Linked DNA regions of Homo sapiens: region 1 is linked to region 2. The links come from fine-mapping of genetic effects on gene expression. A gene starts in region 2. The other region holds a variant in brackets. All regions are shown on one strand. Distances are from middle to middle. Region 1 overlaps JAK1 (Janus kinase 1). Region 2 holds the start of RAVER2 (ribonucleoprotein, PTB binding 2).

What was found. PIP is the estimated chance that this variant, and not a neighbour inherited with it, causes the effect.
Region 1: its variant is the best candidate, but not a certain one, in a credible set for the expression of RAVER2 in spinal cord (GTEx, PIP 0.57).

What each region holds. Positions count from the first base shown.
Region 1 is chr1:64,878,141-64,880,640 of GRCh38, forward strand. It overlaps JAK1 (Janus kinase 1), which reads right to left. Exons shown (of 25, transcript NM_002227.4): 4 at 885-1,008. Among named protein-coding and RNA genes, the nearest start is that of JAK1, 87 kb to the right of the region's middle. The variant C/T (reference allele first, on the strand shown) is at 1,304.
Region 2 is chr1:64,743,373-64,746,400 of GRCh38, forward strand. It overlaps RAVER2 (ribonucleoprotein, PTB binding 2), which reads left to right and starts at 1,703. Exons shown (of 12, transcript NM_001366165.2): 1 at 1,703-2,049. The coding sequence starts at 1,801. RefSeq lists silencers at 1,357-1,456, 1,477-1,676.

The sequences.
Region 1 (2,500 bases), 130 kb after region 2:
TTAATACCTCTGTAAGTTAACCTGCTTTTCAAAAAGGATCCACCCTATTTATAATCTCCACTGCTAAACACACATTAACTTCTGCTTAGCAAGTATGTAACTAACATATTTTCCATTCTAGTTACTGAACAAATATGTTTACAAACTCAGGAGACTGCAGCTATTGAAGTACTGACTGTCTGTGTCACCTGTGACATTTCTCAAAGTCTGCAATATGGGAGAAAAGGCAGGTGCCCATCAGAAGAAAAATTACAGCTCCACAGCCAAAAATCCTCAAGGAGTAGTCAAAACATCCACTCCCAGAGAGCAAGGCCAACCTAGAATTTCTAGTTAACACTTCAGGCAATGTTTCTCGAGCTTTTTAGTTGCAACTTTTAGTAAGAAAAATATTTTATATCATGACCTTTATATATATAGTGTGTATATATATATATATATATATATATATATATATATATATATATATCTCAAAAGTTTAAAAAATATACTTAGGTTATGTATATATGCTGATAGTATCGTCTCCTGTTTCTTTTTCTTAAATTCACTAAATTAAATTGAATTCATAACTGTGAATCCACTAAATTAAATTCATAACTATGATTACCCATTTGAAAAACTCTGCTGTAGGACACTAATTCTATTCAAAATATCCTCTGCCTTATCAAGATTTCTTTTCTAAAATGTGGCAGAGGAAGGTGATCAAACTCATCTTGAATTGTATTCCAAATACTGAAGAAGTCCTTTCTCACATCAAGCAAATACAAAAGTTACAAATTACAAAAATGACTACAATACTTCTTGGTAAGTGACTCAGGGCTCCAGGCTGACCACTGTCCCTCAGTGCAGAGGGAGCCAGGCAGGTACCAGGTCAGTACTTCCCATACCTCATCCGGTAGTGGAGCCGGAGGGACATCTTGTCATCAACGGTGATGGTGCGATTTGGAGCATACCAGAGCTTGGTGTTCTCGTCATACAGGGCAAAGAGGTTGTGACAAAGAGGAGAGATACCTGAGGAAAAGTAAAAAAACACATCAGAAAATCAAGGCGGATACATTTGGCCATCTGTTTCTAAACCCAATATATGCAAAGATAAGGAACTCTCTCATCCACAAAGAATCTGGGTCACTCATATCCTCTTAGGGCAAACAGACTTCCGACCAGGTTCGGTCAGGCTGTTTTGATCATAATCATCAAGAACTATGACTCCCCAGAAATATGCACTGTAGCTCCTGGCAAACCAAATTTAGATCATTTAAAAATAAAACTCTGATGATATTTCTCATTACAGGTATCCGTCACAGAG[C/T]CTTATCAAATCCAGCTTCAAAAAAACCCCTATCTGAGAGGTTCACAGATCCTGCCTGATGTGCACTTTGCTAATCGGAAACACTCTGGGAGTTGGGGAAATCTTCCATCTGTTTCCTACAGAAAGCACTTAAACAATTCTAACACGCTCGTGATTATACATCAGACATGCAAACAAATTCCTGGCAGTAGTATGCAAAATGCATATTAGAATAAATAATAACCAAAGTGATTTTTGTCAGTGATTAAAATCTATTACCATTAATAATAAATATACTTCTTAAGTACTCTGTATGATTATCACAAATATTTTTTATTTAGTAACCAACTAGCAAGAAGATATATGGCTTCACAAAGCTGGCCCAACAGTGCTCCCCTGCCTCTCCACTCCACCAGTTGCCTCCGTCAATAAGAGAATGATGGGAAAGACCAGGGAGATTATGAAGTCACTCACTTCTACGCCCATGATTAAAATTTTATGAACCTGAAACATAGGCAGGTTGGGGGGAGAATGACTGCCAATAATCAGCTATTACTGATATTTTCATAAGCAGCCAGGCCTCAAACTAAGATGAGGTAAACTTAAATGACAAAAAACCTGGGAGAATATGAGGTAATAGGCACTTGTTTCCCAAATCGGACATCTGCAGTGAGACTGACACTGACAGGGCCCCCTCCCTGGCCCAGCACACCCAGGCGGGGACTCTCTCCAACGCAGACACTGAGTTAAGAAGCTACAGATACCTTGGCAGCTATCTAGTGCTCTCCTGAACACCTCAATCCATGCTTCTCAAGCAATATGAACAGTTACCCTTCAGAAGTTATAGTCTTTCTTATAAACCGAGAATATGGAGTTAAACTGTAAAGGGAAGTTTTCCTTGGGAACATAGGCAAATGGCTTTTGGATTCAGTATTATTAGGACAAATAATTCAAATATGCTATAGATTTTCATTCATAAAGTGGCTTTTGTGGACTGGGCTGGAAACCCAGCCTTTCTTTATGCATATCCACATTTGAATGTGCACCAACACTTACATATCTGAAGTGTAACTTATTTTAACCATGGAACTGTCTGTAATTCTAACACAGGTCTGATTCTAACAGTATTACTACCCATAAACAGAAAGATCAAAGACATATCTCTTTATATAAAAGTACTGAGTAGTAAAACAATAATACTAACATTTACTGAGGGCT
Region 2 (3,028 bases):
CCCCTCTGTCTAGTTCCAAAACTAGATTTTCATCATTCCATAAGGATGTTTGCACCCATTACCTTCTCCTCCAGCCCTTGGTAAACACCAATCTGTGTTCCGCTCTATGAATCTACCTATTCTGATATTTTATACGCATGGAATCATACAATATATGACCTTTTGTCTCTGGCTTCTTTCATTTAATGCTTTGGAGGTTCGTCCACCTTGTAGGGGTCCTTAATTCCTTTTTATGGCTAAAAATATTTCTTAGCATATATATATCCCACGCTTTGCCTATCTGTTCATCAATAAATGGACATTTGGGTTGTTTCTATCCTTTGGTTACCAGGAATAGTGGTGGTATAGAAGGGTGTATTGCCGAATATCATTTTAATGATACAAGTATTAGCAGCCATTATTTTTGGGTGGACGGATTACGGGTGAATTATTTTATGTTATTCAGAACACTGGGCTTTGGAATCAATCAGAACAGATCCCATTTCCTCACGTGTAAAGTGAGGAAAACAAAACCTACGTAATTGAATGATCATGAAGAGTAAATAAATATGTATATGTAAAGCATTTAGAAATGCGTGGTTGGGGGGAGCACATGGTAAGGACTGAATTTGTAGTATTTTTAAAAAATCTTTAAAACATTTTGTTTTTCTTTTAATTAGTGTTAAAGTCTTTTTTTTTTTTTTTTTTTTTTTTTTGCTAGTGTACTTGCATGCTACACAATTAAGATGCATGGTCCCCTTCGCTGATGGTCACCTGGGCTAGTGCCAAAGGCTGCTGGATTGTTTGATCTGATGACATCCGTTTGACTAAGTATAGTTCTACACTGTAACTCTCCCTCCAAGTTTCAATTAAAATAATGTTCCAAGCAGCGTATTCTCCAGCCCCTCTGCCACAGCTCCTTTTCCATTCTAGTCTTTGTTTCAGCATCACTTTCCATGTTGCAGACCCAACTACCCAGGTTTTACATTTTAGGAACTGCATGACAGGGACAGAGGGACAGGTGAAGGGCACAGGCTTTCTCATACACAGCTAGCAAAATACATTACGATCAGGTTTTACCAAATACATAACATTTCTCCCACAATGTCCCTCTTTTTACTCCCCAGAAAATCTCATTGTAAACTCAAACTTTGCCAAATATGCTCTTCTTGAACCAACAGAAGGGTTACCATCGGGAGCCAGCCGGGCTGCAGGAGGCGCCCTCCTGCCACCCCTCCAGCCCCATCTCGGGTGTGGGAAGACCGAGTTCGCGCCCGCAGCCCCCGGGCCGCCCCAGCGCGGGAGTTTCGAGGGGAGCCGGGGGAGAGCTGCGGCGTCACATGGGGGGCCAGCCGGGGACAGGCGCCTGGGGCTGAGTCTCCCGGCGAAGCCACCGCGAAGGGGCCGCATCCCCCAGAGAACGACCCTGGGCGTTCGCGAAGGCCTCGCAGAGAGGGGGAGCCCGCCTGCGCGTCCGCGCCCTCACAGGTGTCCGGGTGGCGGCGCCCGGCCCCGCCTGCGGACCCGCGAGAGGCGGGCGCGGGCGCGCCTGTGCGCCGGGGCCGGGGGCCGGCGGGGGAGGTTCCCGCGAGGTGGTTCTCGGGCTCCTCCTCGGCGCCTCAGGTTTCCTCTCCCCGCCAGCAGGCTGCTGGCTGCGGCGCCGCCTCTCTCTACTCCCTCCTCCCACCGCCCCCCTTCCCCGCGGTTGGGCCCACTCTGCGGCCTCTGCCCGCCTCGCCCTCGCCCGGGCCTCCTCCCGCTTTCTCTCTCCGCTTCCCCTGGAGCCTCCGAGGAGTCCGCAGCCGCTGGGCGCCCGGGAAGATGGCGGCGGCGGCGGGAGACGGCGGCGGCGAGGGGGGCGCGGGCCTGGGCAGCGCGGCGGGGCTGGGGCCGGGGCCGGGGCTGCGCGGGCAGGGCCCCTCAGCCGAAGCGCACGAGGGCGCCCCGGACCCGATGCCCGCCGCGCTGCACCCTGAGGAGGTCGCCGCGCGACTGCAGCGGATGCAGCGGGAGCTGAGCAACCGCAGGAAAATCCTGGTGAAAAACCTGCCCCAGGACAGCAACTGCCAGGTACTGGGACGGTGATAGGGGCGACGCGTCCCGAGGGGCGGCGGGGCGGCGCTCCGTGTCCAGGCTGGGATCGGGGGCGCCTCAGAGCGGTCCTGGGGAGTGGGTCGGCGCCGAGTGGTGAGAGCGGCCCCTCGGTTTGACTGAGTTCTTGGGGTTTCTAGCCTGCAGACGCCCTGCCAGGGAGGGGGGCAGATTGGGAAACTGAGGCTCTGAGTGGCGAAGCGGCTTCTCCAAGGTCACGGGAATCAGGGGCTGCTGCCTCCAAGTTCGGCCCGGTCTTTCCTTCCCCTACGGCCGTAGAGGAGTAGGAGGTGAAGGAGAGTGGAGGTGAGTTGTGGAGCACACATTTTGCGGGGGGGAGCGGGGGTAGAGGGGGCCGAAGCTTCGGGAGCACCTTGGCAGGGGCGAGGGCTCCAACGTATAGTCCCCGGTGCTCGGGAGTGCCATAGGGGGCAGGGGCACGAGAGAGCTGGGAGTGAGTTTCGCTGTTGTTGCAGAAGCACTTGCCCAAGTTTCTATGAAACAACTCTGTCTTCTCAGTTTGCTAAGGCCCCAGAATAGAGTTATTGCTGCGCTCCTTGGAGCCTTGCAGCCGCCTCCTGCTACGCCAAGTACAGTACTGGAGGGTTTGTTCTCAGTGACTTGGATGAGGTTTAAAGATAGCTACTCTGTGTATTTAATCCAGATTAACTGTTGCTTTTAAGATTAGAAACTCTGCATCTATTTAACTTTTTTTTTCCCCTGATTTCAAAAGCTGCATGCTCATTGTAGGAGAGCTAGGAAAGACAGAGAAGCACAAAGGGGACACAGAAATTACCCATATTTCTGATACCTGAAGATAACCATTGTTATCCTGGGATGTTGTTCTTTTCTCTTTTCCTATGCATATATATTTTTGTTTTATCAAAAGCTTGAAATCATTTCTTTGATTCTTCAGGATTTCTTAGCTGTCTGGATGTTCACACATGTTTCACATATA